Linked DNA regions of Homo sapiens. The protein of the gene in region 1 interacts with the protein of each later gene in a pairwise test. Each region holds a gene or a part of one and is shown on either strand. Other genes may lie near its edges.

Region 1 (4,010 bases):
ATAGTTTCCTTTCTTTCTTCCTTATCTTTGTACATTTAGTCAGGTATTCTCCTTGTCTTTTTATGTATCACCTCAGTTTAGGTTATTTTGCCAGATAATAATCAACTATATCAACATTTCACATTCACTTAATACAGAAAGTTCCCCTCAATGTTTTTTTCTAATATTAGGGAATATATAGCCAAAACAAACTGTTTTCTATTTCAAACTTGCAACTCTAAGCATTAGCCCAATCAGAGATCTTCCTAGTGTAGAGTAATTTAGAAAGACAGCAAAATCAAAAGGATATTAGTCATTATTTAGGACATACTATGTACTAGTATTGTGTGAAGTGCTCTACACAACTTAATTTAATCTTCATGCAACACGGTAAGATAGATGTGTTATTTCTAACAAGATCAGATAAGTGTTCCAGTGTTGCCCACCTGGGTAAGTGGCAGAGGTAGAATTCCAAGATGGGACTATGCCCATCTTCTTTCCATTTTTCCTCACTTTCTCAAATGTTGGTACCATAGAAAAATCCCTGGAATTAACTGATGAGTTATTTTAAAAAGCATGTGTGTTTGGGGTTCCACTGAAGTCTTTGTTAACTAGAGTTTGAAAATGAAAACAAGATAAAGGACTTGAAAATGTTAATCTAAAATAGACATAGGCAAACATAGTTTCTGTGTATACACAGGTCAGTCAATTCAGTAACACTCTTGGTTTCTATTACAAAGTAAGTCAGTGTTTCATTTGTGGCAGCTTTTTGACCATGGACAAAAATAAACAAATAAACAAAAACATGAGTTCAGATGGTGGACATGCCATGATTAGGTTTTTGCCTTAGAATTTTGATCATTGCTATGGTGTGTGATTGCTGGAATGATTTGGTTTTTGTCTTGGAATTTTTATCATGGTCATGGTATGTGGTTGCTAGAAAATTCTTTATAGATCATCTAGTTAACCCTTCTTATTTTTAGATGTAAAACCAAAGAGTACTTATACTGAGATTGTTCATACAACAATGGGATCCATTTATATTTCTTCAGGTTATACTATTTCAAAAAAGTTGTTAGATAATATGACACACTTATTGAATGCCTTTTTAAAAACAACTTCTAGTAATAAAATAAGTTCTGTTATTTAAAATATTCCACTGAATATCTTGATCTACCATGATTACTCTTTACTAAATGTTACTGTGCCATTTTGGTAGCCTGAAATATGCCTTTAATGGTTGCAAATTCAAACATATACTATATTATGACTTTTCTAAATGGGAAGAGGTCCTATTTTATAATATATTAAACATAAATTTTTTGTATTGTTTTGAGCCAGTGTACTGAAAAATGATTAATGTTTTCTATTCTTTAATTTTTAGAGTTTGACATAAAGAGCTTCTGCAAGATCCTGGGGCCATTATCCTACTCCAAGATCAAGCATTTGCGTTTGGATGGCAATCGCATCTCAGAAACCAGTCTTCCACCGGATATGTATGAATGTCTACGTGTTGCTAACGAAGTCACTCTTAATTAATATCTGTATCCTGGAACAATATTTTATGGTTATGTTTTTCTGTGTGTCAGTTTTCATAGTATCCATATTTTATTACTGTTTATTACTTCCATGAATTTTAAAATCTGAGGGAAATGTTTTGTAAACATTTATTTTTTTTAAAGAAAAGATGAAAGGCAGGCCTATTTCATCACAAGAACACACACATATACACGAATAGACATCAAACTCAATGCTTTATTTGTAAATTTAGTGTTTTTTTATTTCTACTGTCAAATGATGTGCAAAACCTTTTACTGGTTGCATGGAAATCAGCCAAGTTTTATAATCCTTAAATCTTAATGTTCCTCAAAGCTTGGATTAAATACATATGGATGTTACTCTCTTGCACCAAATTATCTTGATACATTCAAATTTGTCTGGTTAAAAAATAGGTGGTAGATATTGAGGCCAAGAATATTGCAAAATACATGAAGCTTCATGCACTTAAAGAAGTATTTTTAGAATAAGAATTTGCATACTTACCTAGTGAAACTTTTCTAGAATTATTTTTCACTCTAAGTCATGTATGTTTCTCTTTGATTATTTGCATGTTATGTTTAATAAGCTACTAGCAAAATAAAACATAGCAAATGGCATCACTGTGTTTGACTTCTTGTGAAATTTCTGTACTTTGTATATAAAATACATAAAACAATAGATTAGAAATCAAAAGATATCTCTGGCCTGCAATATTTTACTGATGTGAACATAGGATTTTCCACTAAATAATTTGTCTACTTCTAGCATTCACTTACAAAGAGTTCTTAAAAACACCTATAATAGGTACTTAGATTTCACAACTTACTTAGATATTTGTCATTATTCCCATTCCTGGTGTTTTTACTGGTTCATATACAATGGTATTCTATTAGATAAGAAGCTGCTATGTGATCTCAGCACTCACTCCTTGGTTGTCAAGAAATGGTGGATAACTCACAGGATTAAAAATGAATGAATATAAAATTTTCTGAAATAGATATTTAAAAAATCATTTTAGCTTGAAGCCAATATGTCTGGATCATAGGTTTTGAGTTCATAATCCAGTAATAACAGCTTTCAGCTTTCTATGAGTATATACAATTCTATACAATGATAAATACTCTGCATATAATTTATAAAAATAACTTCTGTTTTACCTAGTTAACAATAAAACCTATGTGTGGAGCCAAATGTTATGCAGACAAAGGTCTGCTCATCCCATACCAGTGTATATATAGTCAAATATGTGTCTAGTACAAATAAAATGTATCTCTAAGGCATAAAATGTTTTAACACACCACTTTTAGTGAACTCTATCTTATGGTACAGCGGCCTTTCATCAGAGGATCATCATTGAGACTGAGTTGACTGGCAGATATGTGCGATGGATATTACATTAGGTACAATGTGTATTTTTGATTTTCATGAGTTTTCTACATTAAGGTAAATTCCTTAGAGTGTGATAGCAGCCTCAGTTTATTTGTTGGTTTAAACTTGAAATCTACTTTTTCTCGATAAAACTATAATGTAGATGAATTGAAAATGAATTTTCTTTTCCCTGTCTACAAAAGTCACTATCAAGCCTTGGAAACCTATTCTCAAATAGAGGGTAGATAATGTGCCATAAATTCTCTTTTAGAAAGAATGTGATGGAATTAAATGAGCTTTGTCTCTATACTACTTAGAGGAAACATCTTCTCAGCAGACAGTCTGTCTGCATCTTTAAAAGCCTTTGATTTCTCTCTATCCAAAGTCCTATGTTATTCTCATGCCTAAGAAGCAAAACTATGACTTTTAAAACAGCAGTTCCCTTTGTAGTTAATGTTGGTTGACAAAGACAAAGTTAAGCACTTAGTGACACTTTGTTGTAGAAGCATCTGGGAAAGGAATATACCCTGTTTAGGAACAACTCCTCTTTTTAGAGGGAAGACTTCATCTTTTCAGGGCAAAGCTGGAGAAGAGAAGATTCCCACTTACTCCTTCACTCACTGGGCAGCCCTAGTGAGGTGCTGAGGGAAGAAAATCTGGTGAAACTTTTATCAGCTTTCTCCTCATCTCTCCATCCTCACCCTATTTAGGGTAGTGTTTTTCAAAATGGTAAGTATATAACCAGCCTGTAAGGGTGTATTTCTACATCCAGGTTACCAGACATGCCCCAGATATACAGACGTAATGAATTGTGCAACATAGGATTTTGCATTTTTAAAGCGCATCCACGGGTGATTCTTATACCGGTGCTCAGTGTTGCATATTTTTCAAAACACCGACTTAGTGTGATACTATGATTAAGTTACTGAAATCACAAATAATTAAAAAGCAGAAAAGTACTCTTTTCTAGGGAGGCAGAATAGAAAGTAGCCTGCTTTTCACAGCATATCTATCTATCATCTATCTATCTATCTATGTATCTATCTATCTATGAGAATAAATATTTTTTTTTTCTATATTCTAACTAATTTAAGCTCTCTAGCCCTCTACTTCTTCATCCATAA
Region 2 (4,327 bases), on another chromosome or scaffold:
TACATCTTGGAAGAGACAGAAGCCATTTTATAAGGAGGTTAGGATTGCTTTCTCCCTCAGAAGGTGGAGGGAATCTGTTTCCTCTGTATTGGGTTGAGGAAAATACAAGTTTGTGAAGCAACAAATTTTAAAGTCAAATTTCCTGGTTGGAACGGGAGGCAGTCACATTTTTCAAAGGAAAACTTTTGTAATGCCTTTTAAGTTATGTTAAGATCTCTGCAGACTTAATCCTAGTGAAGTGTGAAATAGCAATAGAAGGTAAAATGTGCGATTGTTGGTAATTAAATCTGTGGCAATAACTGACTACAGTAAACCGTGAACGTTTACTCTTGTTCTGCCGAATGGAGTAACATTAAAGAAAGAGCTGCTCTCAGACCCAAACACTATTTTGTGTGAATAGCTGTTACTGATAAAATTATAGGAAGTTGTTCAACAATCACCTTTGATTTGTTACATTACCGATATGTAAAAAATAAAATTATAGGAAGTTGTTCAACAATCACCTTTGATTTGTTACATTACCGATATGTAAAAATCTGTCTGATTTCTCATCTAACATGTAGTAAAAGGACCTAGGCATACTGATGAAATGAGTTAACACATCCTAGGTGGTCATGAATTTGGGCTTTAAAAACAAAAATAAATGTCCATGTTGCAGTGCCGAGAATCCCAAATTGGATTAACTATACAGCTCTGTTGTTAACCTTTATACATAGCCATAATCAGTGCAGAATATTTTGTTAAAAGCCTTTATGGTTAATTTTAAAGAACAAAATTAGTATTACTTAAAAATCAAATTATGAAGATATCTCAAATCCATTTTTTCAACATATACTTGTCAGTTATTAAAAAATATTTCCTCTAATTTTTTTTTTTAACCAGGCATAACTTAAGAAGGAACAGTTTCATGCAGAATGCTAGTCAAATGAACAAATATGAGCACCTACTATGTGCCAAATAATGTGCTGTGTGAGATGCTCCTTATGTCTTATTTGCCGACAGGAAAGACTAAGCACTTTGCATAGTTCTTGTATTGTAGCTGATGTCCTCGTACTGACATGCCCTTCTGACTTTATCCTTCCTGGCTTTGGCTTTTCTATTGGGTTTTCATACACAGAAAGAGACAAAATAATCTGAAGGCCATTGTAGGAGCTTCCTGGGGATCACAGGACTGGGGAATGCGGATGATTTTACCTTGTGTTTCTAAGTGGATTGGAAGCTCCGTGAAGGCAAAGATCCTTGCTCTTGTATCTTTATCGCAATTCCTGATGATTCTATTATCAGTAACTAGGGATGTGTGTGGAAAGCTGGATTCCAAAAAGAATGGAGGGTAATCGGAAGAAGTGAATTTAAATTCCCTGCTTTCTTCTAATAGGCATCATCCATATGTCCTCCATTTTCCACTCCTCTTTGCTGTTTTGTGGGCCACCGGGCGCACAGTGAAAGGAATTCCGTTTTAAAGATGGAACAGTTTTTGCCTTCTTGCCTTCCTCTCATTTGTTCTCTTGGGACAATGTTTCGGTTGAACATTCTCATATTGTTTCCAGTTAAAAGCCAATAGCAATTGATCCAGCTGTTCCAATGGAAAGCTGTTACACACACAAGTTCTTTGAAATCTGACAATCTGTGCACCTTTATTACAGGATTAATCATGGATTGTGAACAATATGTCTGCTTTAGAAATAAAATAGTTGTTTTCAAGTAATGGATTGTGGTGCAGTTGGGAACGAAAATGTTACTAATGCCATTATAGTGTGTGTGTGTGTATATACACACATATACAATATGTGTGTGTTTATACACACATAATTGACCCACAAATTAAAGAAAAAGAGATCTAGCCAGACTTTTTGGCTCTGTTACCGGAAGCGAACAGTGATGTTTAGACACATAGTTACATATATTTCTAGGAGATAGCCTCATTTTTTTTCCCTTTGGAAAACTAAAATCATGAATTAATTGTGCTTTCCAAGAATTTTTTTTTTAATCAGCATCACTTGCTAAAAAATAGAAATAGAATTTTTTTGTTTCTTTTTTATGTTGAAAAATTTTTTTCATTTTTATTGTTTCTTTCCTACATTTTCTTTTACTGTAGGGGCAACAGGGTGATTGGTGAGATCTTCTACCACCATGTATTTACTGGTAACTGCAGGCATCTAGTTGCTTCTAAAGAGGAATGCTTCTGTGATTTACCCAGTCCCTTTTCAGTCTACCAGTGATTTCTGTAGCCCCCCTACCCATCCCTTTCATGTGAATACCACCCACCCATTTAATTCCTCATCACATCTTTCTTAAACAGATGCTAAAGAGGTTCCTCAGATTCTCTGACTTGCACATTTGCATACGATTTAGAGAACTTCCAAGTTGGTGCTTCTGTGAGACATCATGTGGCTGTGAGCTGGTGAGAGGGGAAGTTGGGTGCTTTAATACATTCAAAGGAAGGAATTTGTGAGTGTGTGTTTAGGCAATGATTAACTTTCTTTTGCAATACTTACTCTGGTCCGTAAAGCAAAAATAAATTGTTACTGAACACAATGTAAAATCCTCCTTCCTTTTCCAGAGGGCAGGGACTTGAGATTGGTTCATGATTACCAGCAGAGAGTTAGTGAGCCAGTGCTGGATAATCTATCACGGACCAGTGGGTTTCAGAATCGGATGCAGTGCGTATGCTGGAAGGGGAGAAGGTGCTGTAGGCATGTGTAGGCATCTTCCTCACTTAATGATTTGAAAACCCTCTTCTCAGTGACTTGCAAGCCTTAACATCTTTTTCTGATTGTATTTCCATACAGATAGTTAAGGGTGATGGCAATAGCAGTGGCCTTTACTTTTGTTATACCCAATCAGCCTGAGTACATTTTTGTGGTGGGTTTGTTTTGGTATTTTCTTGCCATGTGAATTGATATTTAGGACCTGCGCTTTGCAGAGCTCCTTCATTATAGTATGCGTTCTTTCTGCAGATGGCAAATGCAATTTTCCTCTTGTCCTAGAGAGATGACCCATTTCCTGTGACTTGTTCTAATAATACAAGATGACTTTAATTTTTGTTCAGTTTGCCTTTAAAAGATTGCCAGGTTTAACTCTCTTGTCTCTGTAACTCTTGTGATATATTTTTGAGCATTGGTAAGACATGTAATAATTTAAAAACAATGGCAGACTAATTTTGTGAAAGTTTTTTATTTTTTATTTTTGGCTAAATAAGCACCTTTTATGGCTGTGCATTTTGGATTCGTTACATATATCTTTTCTAAAATCTGTGACTGAAAGTGGGGTGAAGTATTCCTGCCCTGCTTACTGAATCTTTTTTTCCCACATAACTAACCTCAGGGTATTTTGATCATTTGCTTTTTCTATAAAAACCTGTAGAATGAGGAGATTGCAGCAGATGATCTCTAAGGACCATTTGAACTTTGAATTTTTTTCTCCTTCCCCTTTGCAGCTTTGGCGTCTCGGCCACTTTCTGCCCAAACTCACCCCTGGATGAAGGGTCTAAGCTTGCTGCTGTCTCCAGCAGTGATGGGCTCTACTAGGAGGCATTGCCAGGTCTGGTGGGCTCCTTCGGGTTGGCCTGGCTCTTCTCTTTGACCTCTGTAATAACTCTGAGTGCCCTGCAGTGGGGAGCACTTTGAGGGGGGCCTGTGAATGAAGCCTTAGCAAGTCTGTCCAGAGCTCCCCTGGTGCCGCCTGGCATGCTGCTGATAGTTTGCAATGTCTTCACAAGAAATGGTATCAGAAACCTCCTGTCATATCAGCATGGGTCTCTTGCTTCCTGCAGGAAGGGCGATATCCTGGGAGGCACAGAGGTGGAGCCCGAGAGACGCAGTGTTCCAGCGCTGCTCGGCTCAGGACTGGGTCTTTTCTTCCGTATCCTCAAGCAGCTTCCTTTGACTTACTACTTCTTTTTGTTTGTTTTTTCTTCATTGGGCTTTAAGCGTTGCTTCTCTTTAGTGTATGTGTGACTGAAGCCAAACACAACATTGCTTTCCCTTTGCCTGCAAATAATCTTGTTGCCCAAGCCCATCTCTGCCATTTTCAGTGACAGCTGGCTGGCCAATGAGCCTGAGCACTGGGAATGCCCAGCAGGGCACATCTAGGGGGCTGCTTTATATTTGGAGCTAGCAGGTCTCTTTTCTAGGGCTTTCCAGGAAAGATTTAGAATTAAACATTGGATGGATTTTGTGTGTTCATTTCTTTTTCCATCACTGTGCCTTTATTTTCTTGGGGCTTTCATTAAAAGCAGAAAAACAGATAATGGTAGAAACATCTATAGCATGCATACAAAGAAGTAAAAGATTTTTATAATTTTTTGCCTTAAAATATATCTAATGCT
Region 3 (3,500 bases), on another chromosome or scaffold:
ATTTTGAAAAGAAGGAAAGAGGAATGTTAGGTCTTTTAAGACAGATGTTTAGTCTTGTATTGAAGGAGAGTGAACACCTAGATGTATCCTACGTATTAGACAATACTGTCTTGTCCTTTGACTTTTACTAGTCTCTTGAGAAGTTAATATTTTAAATAGGCTACTGGTACTTGCCTTGGGGAGAAAAGGTTCAGGGTTACTAATTTTGTTGAAGTTACTGAGTTAAGCAGTTTAACTCAATGAGGGGTGGGAGGGCAAAGGTGGCAAAAGGCTATCATAATTTTTCTAAATATTCCTAGTGGGATCAATAGACTTTCAAATTCTTTCTATCTTAAATATTCCATTCCCCCTCCCCCCCAGGCTCTTCCAGGAGATCAATAGCTATTATCACTAATGGAGTAATGGTACCTCTGTAGACTCTTCAGAGGTGGAGTTCTGCCAACCATTATTCTAAGTCATGTGGCTTGAATTGTTCTCTTCTTGGGCGTGGAAAGAATACAGATCATACAGCTTGCCTTTCATGTGTTAGCCTTCCCAGTAACTGAAGCAGATATTAAGTGCTTTTTCTGATTATTTTGGAAATCTATGTGTTTTTTGAATTCTACTGAGATTCAACATGGCGCTAAATGTTCATCCTCATTGCAGTCCTGGATTAACTGCAAACCTAAGAGTAGGATTTCATCTCTTGTACTCAGGGAAGCCTTATTTATTAAGCCAATCTTTAAATTATTGAAAAGAGTGGAGAAAACGATGTGTTTTTATCGAGGTAAAAGTTGCGTAACATAACTGTCACATAGTCACATCAGATTTCAAGTGCAATTGAGTGGCATTGGGTACATTCCGTGTTGTGCAGCCATCACCTATGTTGAAGAAGAGAGAAAGTGGTTATTTTTAAAAAGTGATGCCGGTCTGGACTACAGCTGGCTGGAATTCAGCACCTATTCAGGAATGTGTCGATAATGGAGTGCCCACAACAGCTCACAGCCAGCGATAATTGTCTATCCCTTTGTCTTCATTTCCAAGCGTCTGAACTGAAAAAAGGGAATTAGCTTTAGCTACGTTTGTACTGTATTTCCACTTAAAAAGTTATGGAACTTGAACACTGTATAATGTTCACCCAAATAAATAAGAACAATTTACTTGAAATCTGAGCAAATCGTTAACTCTTTGGGGATTATGGAAATTTTGCTGGTGTTCTAGTGACTCGTTTTCAGCCCTAAGGCTGGCTTTATTATCAGTGATTTGCCGCCTGTGTGGTAGTGGTTTCCTAATGAGTAGGATGCAGGGTTGAGACTGGGGAGCTCCTGCAGCATGAGGCTCTTAACTGATGGGACGCCAGCACAAGACATTCAGTACATTGTGGCTGTCAGGAGCTGGATGGGAAAAGTAGTTACTTTTCCCTTCTTTGCCCATTCCCAATATCAGCAGTCCTAACCTTATTTTATTTTATTGTATTTTATTTTAATTTTTTTGAGACGGAGTCTTGCTCTGTCACCCAGGCTGGAGTGCAGTGGGCAGTGGTGTGGTATCTCGGCTCACCGCAACCTCTGCCTCCCAGGTTCAAGTGATTCTCCTGCCTCAGCCTCCCAAGTAGCTGGGATTACAGGCACCCACCACCACGCCCAGTGAATTTTTGTAGTTTTGATAGAGACAGGGTTTCACCATGTTGGCCAGGCTGAGCTCGAACTCCTGACTTCAGGTGATCTGCCCACCTCAGCCTCCCAAAGTGCTGGGATTACAGGCGTGAGCCACCGTGCCCAGCCTCAAGGACCACTTTCTATGCTCGGTAGTCAAAGGGAAATACTACTTTTAAATGATATAAAACGTTATCTTCTCTTTGCCTTCTTTTGAAAGTTACTTAGTGTTTTACCAGATATTCCAGTCTATAATTATGTGTGCGTTTGATTGCTTGTTTTTTGTTTTTTTTTTTTTTGAGGCAAGGTCTCACTCTGTCACCCAGGCTGGAGCATGGCTCACTGCAGCCTCCACCTCACAGGCTAAAGCGACCCTCCAGCCCCAGCCACCCAAGTAGTTGGGACTACAGGAGCATGCTACCACACCTGGCTATTTTTTTGTACCGTTTTTTGTAGGAACGGGGTGTTGCCATGTTGTCCAGGCTGGTCTTGAGCTCCTGGACTCAAGCAGTCTGCCCATCTTGGCCTCCCAAAGTACTGGGATTACAGGTGTGAGCCACCACACCCAGCCCGGTCTATAATTATAATGCAGCTAAATGTTGCCTTTCTACAAAGGCTACCAATACCAGCTGCCTTATGGCCTCTCCTCTCAGAATTATTTTTCTGTATCTTCCCCAAATTCCATTTTAGGTGTCAGCTATCATTTTGATTAACTACCAAAACATATTATTTTACTTAAAATTGTCATTTGTAGAAATCTTGAAAATTTTGATATTTTGCTAAATGAATTTATGAATTTGAGTGGTAGAAAATTAGTTACACGAAAACTGATTTAAAAAATTCCCTGGGTCAGGCACGGTGGCTCACGCCTGTAATCCCAGCACTTTGGGAGGCTGAGGCAGGTGGACCATGAGGTCAGGAGTTGGAGACCAGCCTGACCAACATGGTGAAACTTGTCTCTACTAAAAATACAAAAAATTAGCTGGGCATGGTGGCATGCACCTGTAATCCTAGCTACTTGGGAGGCTGAGGCCGGAGAATTACTTGAACCTGGGAGGTGGAGGTTGCAGGGAGTTGAGATTGCACCACTGCACTCCAGCCTGGGTGACAGAGCAAGACTCCATCTTGAAAAAAAGAAAAAAAATTCCCAAAAGAAAGCTTTAATTTTAAGGTAAATAGTTATAAATAATTGGTTTGCTACCATGATTTTGTAGAAAAAATAAAAATTGTAAATCTTAAAAGACCATGTGCATGAGTCTTTTCTTTCTGTTTAAAGAACTGGTGAAGTCTTAGTTAAATTGCTCCCAGCATTTCACTTGTTAAGTGTGTGTCCTACAGAAATAGACTTTTCTTTACCTGAGTTGAATACTACTAATATGTGCTGCATGGCATTAAGTTTTGGTTATGGGCCGGATGTAGTGGCTCACGCCTGTAATCCCAGCACTTTGGGAGGTCGAGGTGGGTTGATCACTTGAGGTCAGGAGTTCAAGACCAGCCTGCTCAACATGGTGAAATCCCATCTGTACTAAAAATAACAAAAATTAGCTGGGCATGGTGGCGCATGCCTGTAATCCCAGCTACTAGAGAGGCTGAGGTAGGAGAATCACTTGAACCCAAGAGGCAGAGGTTGCAGTGAGCTGAGGTCATACCACTGCACTCCAGCCTGGGTGACAGTGTGAGACTCTGTCTCTAAAAAAAAAAAAAAGTTTTGGTTGTGAATAGGAAAGAGAGTGTTCTTACATAATTTAGATTTTTAACATAACATTAAAACAATAAAATTATTCCAAATAAACTCTTGGGCTTCTTAACCTTTGGAAGGGTACCTGTCTTTGGAGAGAGAAAGCCCATTTTGGTGAGTGGGACCCA
Region 4 (3,972 bases), about 75 Mb from region 1:
GAAAGTGGTAGACTCAAGATTTAAACCTGGCCGGGCGCGGTGGCTAATGCCGGTAATCCCAGCACTTTGGGAGGCCGAGGCGGGCGGGCGGATCACGAGGTTGGGAGATCGAGACCATCCTGGCTAACACGGTGAAACCCCGTCTCTACTAAAAAATACAAAAAAATGAGCCGGTCGAGGTGGCGGGCGCCTGTAGTCAGAGCTACTGGGGAGGCTGAGGCAGGAGAATGGCGGGAACCCGGGAGGCGGAGCGAATCTGGTCTCCCTCTCCGGAGTCAGGCCCATTTCAAGAGAGGTATTTTATTTTCTGACTAAGAGCATATAAATGTGAATAGATATAGTGGACTTAAAGTAAGGTAAACTTTGAATAATGTATAGCAAGATTTGGGGTGTGGGTAGTGTCATTTGATACACTAAGGGTTGTTAGCAGTGAGATGTATAATGACAACCGGACTGTCAGTGGGAAAGACAGTAAATTTGTTCACAGGTGTATAGTGGAGGAATGAGTACACAACCCGGACTTCTTATTGAAAACAGTATAGTATAGAAATCTCTAACTTACAGTTAACTGAAGATGTGGAATAGGAAAGTATAGACACTAGAAATATGGATTGGAGCTCCCTAGCTAAGTGTTGTAAGATAGAAATTAATCATAATTGTCAGTCACTAACATTAGGGAAAGAAGATGGCTAGGCTAACATTTTTATTTCTTAAAAGGGATGTTACCAGTGGAGGCTTCTTAGCATAGGCTTTTGATAACCTGCTTAAAACTAAGCACTATATTTTATAAGGATGATTTACTATTTACACTTGTTTCATATACTTCTCAAGTCTCTAAGACTATATGAAGTCAGCTAAATCACTCAAAAATATCTAGAAATTACATCTCATATTAATTCCAAAACATCAGAATTAGATGGTTTAATAATCTAATTGGGCATCTTCTTATTCCTTACCATAATTTTTTTAAATGAGGGTAAAATTAATTGAACTGAGCATACTACAAGTAATTAGGGTCAGATTACAAGAAAGATTATGTTTATTTTTAGTAATTGTAGCCTGTTAATATACTTACAGTATCCTCTGGCTATCACTCCTTTCATAATGCTTTTTTTTTTTTTTCCTGCAAATGCTGAATCTCATAAGAAGTTGGTTAAATCACACTGGAAATTAGCATTTCTTACAAAATCACAGTTACAGATTAATTTGTTAAATACATACTATCTGTATTGCTGTCTCTGAAATTTCTTTATATTTATATATGAAGCATTTTTTAAAGAGGATGTCAACCTTAATTGCATACCAGTCGTAATCTGCTCTTAACCACAGCTTTCAAGGCTGTTTTGTTTGAGTCATATGTGCAAGTGTGACATCCCTCATCCATGTTCGTTTCATCTTGACCTTTAAGTATAAATTGAAATGCATATAAAATGCACTTTATCCAGTTGATAACATATTAGTAATAAAATATGTCAGGTAGGAATATTTTAGAAAAGTTCTGTCTCTCTCTCGCTCTGCCTCTGTTGCTCTATATATACCACTTAATTGAATAGTAGGCAGACTTTTTTAAAGTTATGCAAAAGAAATAATAGTAATACAAAAAACACAGTTACACCCTGTATAACCATTTAATCTTCACATTATTCTTGTAGCCTGCATGCTTTACTGCCCTCAGGTAAAAGCTTGAGTCTTGAATCCAAAAAGGCCTGGGTTATTTTTCTTCCTTTACTATAAACGTTTTAACTACAGAATCTTGGGCAGGGCTTTGAAATTCTGGCACGGAGTCTTAGGTTTTTCTTCTGTAAAAAGCCATGACAATGCTTACTTTCTAGGTTGGATGTAGGGAATAAATGTGATCATGTACATACATGCTTAGCATTTAGCACATGGTAAGCATAAAAAGGTGGCTATTTTACCTATGTTTCAAACATTGAGGTAAGATTTTAGATATTTCATTTCTACTCCTTGCCACAAGCCTACAAAGTCGACTGATGTCACAGGTATTAAAAACCAAAGTTTTATTTTCAATTATCATAAGTGGGAAGGTAGAGTTTGGACCCTACTGGTTGCAGTATACCTCTCTGCCTTTCAGACACTTTTCATTTGATAAGGATATCAAACTGGCTTGCACAAACACCATTATTGAAGTGCAACATTTAAAGTATACAGGTTACAACTAATACAAAGAAAATATACTTAAAGCCCCAAACTTGAATGTTCATTGTATCCAGTAGCTTTGACCACAAACAACCCTAGGATTTCAAGATCAGTGCATAGTCTGTGCTTTCAATCAACATCATCAGCAGGCAGTAATCCTGGGGAAAAAAAGTAAATTCCACAAATAGACCAATTTTCCTTTAAGAGGAAAGCTAATTCTTTTCAGTCTACTTTTTTTATTACACTATTTTCCTCTCTATCTACTTAGCTAGTATAAGGATAAATTTCCAAAGCTACCCAGTTGGAAAAAAATAGGTTCACTGTTTGTCTAGCATTCCAATCTTTGCAAATGTAAATCAGTCCAACTGCTCCTCATTTAAACCTTCAACTTCACAAAACATTAAAGGGTGGCTTTCACTACACAATTTAATCTATCCACTAAGATTTCTGCTGGAACATCATTTGAAATTGACTATCTGATAAAGAGAGACTACTATCAAAGGTCATAGAGGTCAACTTGTATAATTACAAGTAGTTTTACTGGGTCAACTCTACCAGACACCACTATTTGAAGGTTAAATTGTTACAATTAAATATATATACAGATCTCCCCAGAGTTACTTTATTGTTAAATGTACCAGAAACAGAAAAAACATTTATTTCTGACCTTAATTGTGTCCAAAGTGTCACCGTGGGGAAATCATACAGAAAGAACACTTATTAAAAACATTGCAGTCTTGCACATTAAACAATGCTTTATGAAATAAAATGCATAATTAGCTATTGGAAACTAGTTTAGTTTATCACATCAATATTAAGTAGTTCATTTAGGTTACTCCCTTTGGTTGAATTGGAAGTGCTCTAAGAAATGACATCTACTATTTCATGTTGGTGAACTTGCCACAAACAAAGGAAAATGGCTCAGCATCAGAATCTGATGCTAGAGCAACTTTCATTTCAGAATGATCACTTCTAGATTACTAACATTTAATCACATTTTAATAACAGAGTAAAAGAAAGCTTTAAATGGGAAGCTTTAAAATAGGCTATTTTCTAATTGTTTGATTCATTTTAATGCCTTTTACTTTTTTATTAAGTGCCTAAATGGCCAGAGATGAAATCATCCATAATTACTGCAGTGAAACATTATTATCATTCTTTCTTTTATTTTAATGGGTGTAAATACAGATCAGTTCTTTTTATTTTTTTTCTTTCCAGTGTGGTTTAAAAAAAAAAAAAGCAAGTCATCTTTGGTGCCCAAAGTGTTTATCTCAATATCCTTAGAATTTTTGCATGCAAAGGCAAGATTTCAAATGTGTGCAACATTTCATTAAATGAAGTAAATGGTAAATGGTCTAATTCTGATAATGAAGACAACTGTCTAAGCCAGGTTTTCAGATTCAGGGAATTACCATGCGAAACTATTAATAGGAAAATAAATCTTCAAATTTCTAGATCCAAGTGAAATGGTCTTAACCACATTTTATTGTTTAAAATATTTTCAGATTTTGTGTTGGAGACAAATTTTTCCTAAAGAATAACATGATCCTTTGCCAGACGGACTACGAGGAAGGTTTAATGAAAGAAGGTTATGCACCCCAGGTTCGCTGATCTATCAACATCACCCCATTAAGAATACAAAGCACTACATTCTTTTATCTTTTTTGCTCCACATGTACATAAGAATTGACACAGGAACCTACTGAATAGCGTAGATATAGGAAGGCAGGATGGTTATATGGAATAAAAGGCGGACTGCATCTGTATGTAGTGAAATTGCCCCAGTTCAGAGTTGAATGTTTATTATTAAAGAAA
Region 5 (4,327 bases), on another chromosome or scaffold:
GAGCTATGATAGCACTACTGTGCTCCAGCCTGGGTTACAGAGTGAGATACTGTCTAAAAAAATATATATCAAATAAAGTTGAGGTTTCTATATCCTAAGAACTAGTGACTCTCTTACAGTATATACACTAAAAAGACTCCTGCACATGTGCATCAGGAGACATGTACAAGAATATTTGCAGTAGTGTTATCTGTAATCTCAAAAAATGTAAATCAATGTCCACAATCAGGAAAACTGATAAACTGTGGCATATTCATACAATGGAATACCATGCTGCAAAAAGCAAATAAGCTAATCATCATGCATCAACACAATGTTGAAGAAGTCAAAGCCAAGGGAGACGTCAGAACTAAATGTAACTCTGAATGCATTCGCCTCACTAGCTAAACTATTCCAAAAAATAGAAATAAAAAAGTCAATACTTGGAAGCCAAGCTAAAAAATTAAAAGTTAAAATAAAAAAACTGAACAGAGGCCTACAGGGTGGCTCACGCCTGTAATCCCAGCACTTTGGGAGGCCGAGACGGGCAGATTACGAGGTCAGGAGATCGAGACCATCCTGGCTAACATGGTGAAACCCTGTCTCTACTAAAAAAATAGAAAAAAATTAGCCAGGCATGGTGGCGGGCACCTGTAGTCCCAGCTACTCGGGAGGCTGAGGCAGGAGAATGGTGTGAAACCGGGAAGTGGAGCTTGCAGTGAGCCGAGATTGCGCCATTGCACTCCAGCCTGGGCGACAGAGCGAGACTCCGTCTCAAAAAAAAGAAAAGAATAACTAGGATATGGAACTCTCAGGAAAATAAATTAAAACTCAGAGTTGCTAGATTATCTAAAAGTCAATATTCAACAAAAAGATAAGAGACATGCAAAGAAACATGAAAGTGTGACCTACACTCAAGACAAAAAACCCTGTCAATAAAACTGACTCTCAGTGATCCCAGATACTGGATTTATAAATATGCTCAAAGAACGATAGGAAATTAAGTTAAAAGGTTAAATGAAAATATACTAATACTTAATCAACAAGAGAATCTCAAGAGAAACTGAAACTATGAAATAAGGAACCAAATAGAAATTCCAGAGTTGAAAATGCAAAAACTGAAATGAAATACATATTAGAGGGGCTAAGTGGCAGAGTCACAACAGGAGTCAATGAACTAGAATATATAGATACCCATATAGAGAAATTATCCAATCCAAAGCACAGAGAGAAAATTGAAGAAAAATGAACAAAGCTTCAGAGACTTGTGAAAAGATGAATGTCAAGCATTCCACCATATATGTAATGGAAATCCCAGAAAGCAGGGAGAGACAAAAGGGAACAGAAAAAAAAAACCATGAAGAAATAACAGATGAAATACTTCCAAATTTGGTGAAAAACTTGAATCTACATACCCAAGAAGTTAAATGGACCTCAAGTAGGATTAAGAAAGAACTTGGATACATCCCAGTCAAACTAACACCAGAAGACAAAAAGAAAACCTTAAAACCAGCAAGACAAAACTGACTCATATACATGATACAAAAATAATTTCCTCTGACTTTCCATCAAAAATAATAGAGGCCAGAGGGCACAGGGATGGCGTATTTGAAGTACTGAAAGAAAACTCTGTCAATCAAGAATTCTATATCCCAGGTAGGGCCGGGCACAGTGGCTCACGCCTGTAATCCCAGTACTTTGGGAGGCCAAGGCGTGTGGATCACCTGAGGCCAGGAGTTTGAGACCAGCCTGAACTACATGACGAAACCCTGTCTCTACTAAAAAGACAAAATTAGCCGGGCGTGGTGGTGCACACCTGTAGTCCCAACTACTTGGGAGGCTGAGGCAGGAGAATTGCTTGAACCTGGAAGGTGGAGGATGCAGTGAGCTGAGATCTCACCACTGCACTCCAGCCTGGGCAACAAGAATAAAGCTCTGTCACAAAAAAAAAAAAAAATTCTATATCCTGGGTAAACGAAGATTGAGGGAATCCACTGTCAGCAGAACTGTACTGCAAGAAATATTAAAGGAAACCGTCTGGCTGGAAAAACATGACACTGGATGATAACTCAGATCCACAGGAAGGAATGAAGAGCAACAGAAGTGATAAATATCTGGGTAAATACATATTTTTCTTTTCTTCCCTTACCTTCTTTAAACATGAGACTGCTTAAAGCAGTAATTATAACACTAGATTATTGGCTTTAAACATGTAGCTATAATATATTTGACAATAGTATCACACAGGAAGAGAGTGAAAGTAGAAGTATGCTGGTGCAAAGTGGCTGTGTATATATATATATTTTTTGAGATGGAGTCTCGCTCTGTCGCCCAGGCTGGAGTGCAGCGGTGCGATCTTGGCTCACTGCAAGCTCCGCCTCCCAGGTTCACGCCATTCTCCTGCCTCAGCCTCCCAAGTAGCTGGGACTACAGGTGCCCGCCACTACGCCCAGCTAATTTTTTTGTATTTTTAGTAGAGACGGGGTTTCACCGTGTTAGCCGGGATGGTTTCGATCTCCTGACCTCGTGATCTGCCCGTCTCGGCCTCCCAAAGTGCTGGGATTACAGGCGTCAGCCACCGCGCCCAGCCAAAATGGCTGTATTTTTACCAGAATTAAGTCAGTATTAATTTGTAATAGATTATGATTAGGTACAGATGCAACCCCTTTTATGAAAGCTAAAAAAAAGAAAAATCAGGGGCCGGGTGTGGTGGCTCACTCCTGTAATCCTAGCACTTTGGGAAGCCGAAGCAGGTGGATCACCTGAGGTTGGGAGCTTGAGATCAATCTGACCAACATGGAGAAACCCTGTCTCTACTAAAAATACAAAATTAGCCAGGCATGGTGGTGCATGCCTGTAATCCCAGCTACTTAGGAGGCTGAGGCAGGAGAATCGCTTGAACCCAAGAGGCGGAGGTTGCAGTGAGCAGAGATCCTGCCATTGCACTCCAGCCTAGACAACAAGAGCGAAAACTCCATCTCAAAAAAAAAAAAAAAAAAAAGAAAAAGAAAAAGAAAAAGAAAAAGAAAAAGAAAAATCAGAAGAATGACAGTGGTTTTCTGAAATGTTTGTTTGACTTTAAGAAGGCAACAAAGAAGAAATAGGGCTAGGCACAGTGGCTCACGCCTGTAATTCTAGCACTTTGAGAGGCTTAGGTGGACAGATCACCTAAGGTCAGAAGTTTAAGACAAGACTGGCCAACACAGAGAAATCCTGTCTCTACTAAAAGTACAAAAATTAGCTGGGTGTGATGGCGCGTGCCTGTGGTCCCAGCTACTCAGGAAGCTGAGACAGGAGAATTGCTTGAACCCAGGAGGCAAAGGTTGCAGTGAGCAGAAGTTGCAGTGAGATCATGCCACTGCACTTCAGCCAGGGCAATGGAGCAAGACTGTCTCAAAAAAAAAAAAAAAAAGACAAAATAGGCCAGGCATGGTAGCTAAGGCCTATAATCCCAGCACCTTGGGAGGCCAAGGCAGGAGGATTGCCTGAGCTCAGGAGTTCGAGACCAGCCTGGGCAACATAGTGAGACCTTATCTCTACTACAAAAAAAAAAGTTAGCTGGGCGTGGCGGCATGTACTTTTAGTTCCAGCTACTCAGGAGGCTGACGTGGGAGGATCACTTGAGCCCAGGAGGTTGAGGCTGCAGTGAACTATGATCATGCTATCACACTCCAGCCTGGGGAACAGAGTGAGACCTTGTCAATCAATCAATTCATTCATTCATTCATTCATTCAAAAAGACTAAAATTATACAAAGTATATTCTCTGAACACAATAAAATTAATTAAAAATTAACAACAGAAAGATATCAAAAAAACCCCAAATATTTAGAAATCAAACAACCACAAGGAAAATTAAAAATGATGCCAAGTTTAATGAAGCTGAAAACACAACATAAAAAAAGTATGATATCCTGAGAGTGACACTGTATGGAAAAAAATTTATGAGATGCAGCAAAGCAATGCTTACGGGGAAATAAATAGCTTTAGAGCTTATATTAGAAAGGAAGAAAGGTCTAAAATCAATCCTGTAAGCTTCCACTTTGAGAGGCTAGAAAAAGAAGAACAAATCAAACCCAGTAAGTAAAAGGAAGAAAATAAACATCACACTGGAAATATATTTAATGTGATATCCTGGATTAGATCATGGAACAGAAAAAGTCCAGAAGCTGAATAAAGCCTGAAGTTTATATAAAAGTAATATACCAGTGTTTGCTTCTTAGTTTTGACATATGTACTAGATGAGGGATATATAGGAACTCTATTACTTTTTCAATTTTTCTATAAATCTAAAATTATTCCAAAATAAAAGATTTTAAAAATCCACAAAGAAAAGTCCAAGCCTAAAT
Region 6 (4,327 bases), on another chromosome or scaffold:
CACACACAGAGTTCCTCTTGTCGGTAAGTTTTGTTTTTTTTAAATCTCTACTAGATAAAATTTGTTATCTAATTGTGAGTTTTACACAAAGAAAAACTGTCACAGAAAAGAAAGACAGTGTCACATTTTTCAAAAGAAAAAGAAGAAAAGAAAGTGCCATGTTTTTCAAATACAAATGTTCTGGATTGATTTTAGGATCTTTAGTGAAAAACAAAGTATTTCATAATAAGTAAAATAAAAATCTATGTAGGTAAATTTGTTTCTCTAATTTAAGAATTTGAATTTCTGAGTATTTATGATAAGTGTTGAAATAACTTCTTATATGTGACAGTGAATACTGGCAGAGCAAATGCCAAATCAATGCCAAATCTGTAGGATCATTTGATTGTAGGAACAGAATTCTACTCAAACCGAAAGCAGGCATTTGCTGGAGTTACAGAAAGGCCTCATGGAACACCGAGAAGGTGGTGCCATTCGACTCTTAAAGAAGCTGCAACAGGCACAAGAGAGTCAGCTGCAGCTCTTCTTCTTGAGTCTATATCTGTCCTGGGTCCATTCCTTTTTGTGGTTGCTTCATTCCTTTCTCTCTCTGAAGACTGGTTTTTCTGGTCTACCAGGGCTATGCCACATTGACTTTATGTAGTGTCTCCATTCTGGCCTCCTGAATTTACAGGAGAGTTCCTCTGTACAAACTCAAAGTCCTGGAGAGAACAGAAAACAGCTTCCTTTTGGCTCAGGGGTCCAACTGCAGTCTACTCTGCTGCTATGAGGATAGTGGGTTCACCACCTTTGTTGTTCTCTCAGCTAGGGCAGTGGGAAATGACTCTATGAAAGGAATATACATGGGCAGGCAAATGTACTAATCCTCATCAGTACTGTAATTTTAAGCAACTTTAAAAAATTCTTTTAAGTTATTTGAAAATAAGATCAAAGAAGGCTGAATTACATAAATGAAGATTTGTTAACAATTAATTCAAACCAATATAACACATGCTATAACATGGTTGAGTGTGATTGAGTCTTGATTTATTAGGGGCAATAATCAAAACATTTAACAATCATTATAGTACAGAACTTACCAATCAAATCAGATGCTCAGCCGGAGTGGATGTTGGCCACCCAGCTATTATTATCCCTGGCTCAATTGGTCTTCAGCTGTGTTAACTTGCAAACATTAATTAACTATCTAAGCCCCTCATTTTCCTCAAGTGTAAATAGACACAATAATATTACCTATTCCATAGGTGTGGGGTGAATAGTAAATGTAATAATTTGTCCAAAACACTTAGTATAGTGCCTGGTCCATGGTAAATACTAAATAAATGTTATCTGACTTATTATTAAAATTTTATCTTCTCAGCTTAACCTTCAGAACAGTAATATATTGGGGTCTAGATAAATCTTGCCTATATGAAAATAATTTAATACTACATGCAGATATATGCTGTGTATATTATGCCTTCTGTTAGAGGAATTGCAGAAACAAAAATTTCAATTAATAATAAGATGAATTATTTCTCCCAATTGTAGAATCTTTTGACAATTTTATCATGCATTACAGATGTAAGAACTCTTGATTGGGACTTGATAGTCTAACTTTATAATAATTTAAGAACATTCCTCTTAGAGAATTTCTATGGCCATAATACTGAACACATGAATTTTAATTAGCTGTCCTCTTTAGCCCTAAAAAAAAAATTACTGTAATTTAACACTTAAGTGTTGTTCTTCCCAGGTACAGTAATCTTTTTTTTTTTTTTTTTTTTTTTTTGCATAGAGGGTAATCTTTTCTCTTTCCAAATGGCAGAACTGTTAGTTTTCTGACTGTCCGGTGAAATTCTAAGTCCACTTACTTCCCAATAGCATGCAATTAGCAAAGGTCCTCCTTGCAAAGGCACAGAACACACCTAAACATCTTGCAGATGCTGTTTGGACACTCTTCCCCTGCTTTTGGTCTCTTTGTAAAGCAGCTCATCTGGATACAGGATCTCTTTTCCCCATTGCCCATTCTAATATATGTTACCGTTATTACTTATAGAATAATAGTAGAAGAGACAAATATGGTACCTACCCATTACCAACAACACCTCCAATACCAGTAACATTTTTTAAAAAGGGCAACACTTTCCTAATATTCAATCGCTCTTTGATTTAAAATCCTGGTTGAATACTTACTATATGCAGAGCATTATTCTATTAGTAGATGCTGTGATGAACTGAGATTTAAAAATTGTTAAAATTAGCATAAAATTGAAATGTAAATTTAATGTGATATGTGCCCTAGGAGAAGTGTGAATAAAGTCGTTCACAGAAGAGAGAAATAACATGAGGTTCATTTACGTCTTTTGTGCATCTATAGGAGAAGGAGAAGGAAGAGTTGGTATTATCCTGACTTTAGCCATGAATATCATGAGTACATTGCAGTGGGCTGTAAACTCCAGCATAGATGTGGATAGCTTGGTAAGTCTTATCATCTTTTTAACTTTTATGAAAAAAATTCAGACAAGTAACAAAGTATGAGTAATAGCATGAGGAAGAACTATATACCGTATATTGAGCTTAAGAAATAAAACATTACAGATAAATTGAGGGTCACTGTGTATCTGTCATTAAATCCTTATCTCTTCTTTCCTTCTCATAGATAGCCACTATGAAGATCTAATACTGCAGTGAGCATTCTTTCACCTGTTTCCTTATTCAGGATTTTCTAGGAGAAATACCTAGGGGTTGTATTGCTGGGTCATAGGATTCACCCATGCTTAACTGAGTGGTGCCAAATTGTCCTCAAGTCTGTTGTACTGATATATATCCCCATCAAGAGAGTACAAGAATTCTCATAGCTATGTATCTTCAACAACACTTGGTGTCTGGTAGATGTGAAGTGATTACTAAAAATATAGGGAAGCTGCATACATAATTATTGGCTTTTGCTGTTCTCTTACATTAATTTCTTATTCATGTTGATTACTCATTTGTCACCTAGTTTTTTCTTCCTTAATTAAATTGTAGGAATTTATGAATTATGGATTGATCATCAGCTCTATACATTTCAAACATAATCCCTCAGTCAGTGGCTTGGCTTATAGAGTCTTTTGATGAAAAGAAGCTTTTAAGTTTAATAAAGTTCAATTTATTGTCTTTTCCTTTATGTTTTGTGCTTTTGGTATCTTGATTAAGAACTCCTTCCTTATATTGGGTTCTCAAATTTAGCAGCATAACATTTTCATACTATTATTTAAATTTTTTTCACATTATTTAGTGATAGCACCTTTCTTATTCCTAAAGTGTTTATCATTGCCTTCTGTCTTTCTGCTTGATAAATATTGCCACACATTTGTATACTTTATTAGTGTGTACAAAGACCACATTTTAGTTGTGTTATTTCTCTTGTTTTGGTTTTCTAGAATGCAGAGCCATTAATATTATAGTAATGCTTATGTGCTAATACCATATCAGGGGCACAAATCCCATTGCAGCGGGACTGAGAAATTAAAGGAAATGATGCACATTTACTCATTTTTGTTTAAAAAATCAAATGCATATTTTTCAATCAGACTATATGGTTGGTCTGGATAGCTTCATCATTGAATTTTTAAAGTATTTTTGTACTACTGTATTTAAAATTATTCATTCACCACTGCTTTTGTAGATGGTTTAGAAACCCAAGTTAGGAATGACTGTGCAACACTATTATTATACTCTTTTTAAAATTATACTTTTTGCTTAAGTTTCTTTCCTTGTTCTCTGAGACAGTGTTCATGTTCCCAAACCACACACATTTATTCAGCTATAAAATTTGTATGATCAACTCCTGTCAGAACAAACATCATTATAAAAAATATCTCCAGGAAAAAGAAAACCCTTTTAATGCTCTCTTCTGGTTCATGTGTCTTCTTATTTTCTTTAAGCATTTTCATAACCCATTGAGCTGTAATTTAATTGGAACATGATTTATACTAAAGTTGGTTTCTTTACCTTTAACTTTTTTTTTTAGTTTGATCAGCTCTCTTTAGCTTCTGTAGTTCGGTCTTTAATTCCATTCCAGTATGCTTTTGGAGTTGGGTCTCATAAATGTATAGAAATGTTTCTGTTGGGAAACAGCAGGAGAATATTAAATAAATATTGTGCTTACATCTATTTAATTCTTTGCCCAACTTTCTACAACTTTGACTTTACATTTAAGCTCCTCATGCACTTACATGTTTCTTTACCTAAAAATATCTTTTCACCATGGGTGTGTACAATTCCTTTGTCCTTGCTGTATTAATTTTCTTGGTTTACATAGTAGCCTCTACACATTGATGTCAAAACCTCTGTTTGGTGCATT

Evidence for each region.
Region 2: the proteins of LUM (region 1) and GNAQ interact in a two-hybrid assay, tested with the Homo sapiens proteins (one large-scale study listed by BioGRID and IntAct).
Region 3: the proteins of LUM (region 1) and YWHAG interact in binary tests that used the Homo sapiens proteins (3 or more experiments, as listed by UniProt).
Region 4: the proteins of LUM (region 1) and LMO3 interact in binary tests that used the Homo sapiens proteins (3 or more experiments, as listed by UniProt).
Region 5: the proteins of LUM (region 1) and SETDB1 interact in binary tests that used the Homo sapiens proteins (3 or more experiments, as listed by UniProt).
Region 6: the proteins of LUM (region 1) and CFTR interact in a protein complementation assay, tested with the Homo sapiens proteins (one large-scale study listed by BioGRID and IntAct).

What each region holds. Positions count from the first base shown.
Region 1 is NC_000012.12:91,101,673-91,105,682, reverse strand, and holds the end of LUM (lumican precursor), read left to right. Parts: intron 1-1,363; coding exon 1,364-1,518; 3' UTR 1,519-3,054; downstream 3,055-4,010.
Region 2 is NC_000009.12:78,021,389-78,025,715, reverse strand, and holds part of GNAQ (guanine nucleotide-binding protein G(q) subunit alpha), read left to right. Parts: intron 1-4,327.
Region 3 is NC_000007.14:76,352,492-76,355,991, reverse strand, and holds part of YWHAG (14-3-3 protein gamma), read left to right. Parts: intron 1-3,500. UniProt on the Homo sapiens protein: Adapter protein implicated in the regulation of a large spectrum of both general and specialized signaling pathways. Binds to a large number of partners, usually by recognition of a phosphoserine or phosphothreonine motif.
Region 4 is NC_000012.12:16,551,018-16,554,989, reverse strand, and holds part of LMO3 (LIM domain only protein 3), read left to right. Parts: intron 1-3,662; coding exon 3,663-3,768; 3' UTR 3,769-3,972.
Region 5 is NC_000001.11:150,932,433-150,936,759, reverse strand, and holds part of SETDB1 (histone-lysine N-methyltransferase SETDB1), read right to left. Parts: intron 1-4,327. UniProt on the Homo sapiens protein: Histone methyltransferase that specifically trimethylates 'Lys-9' of histone H3. H3 'Lys-9' trimethylation represents a specific tag for epigenetic transcriptional repression by recruiting HP1 (CBX1, CBX3 and/or CBX5) proteins to methylated histones.
Region 6 is NC_000007.14:117,612,254-117,616,580, forward strand, and holds part of CFTR (cystic fibrosis transmembrane conductance regulator), read left to right. Parts: intron 1-2,359; coding exon 2,360-2,460; intron 2,461-3,975; exon of another isoform or gene 3,976-4,087; intron 4,088-4,327. UniProt on the Homo sapiens protein: Epithelial ion channel that plays an important role in the regulation of epithelial ion and water transport and fluid homeostasis. Mediates the transport of chloride ions across the cell membrane.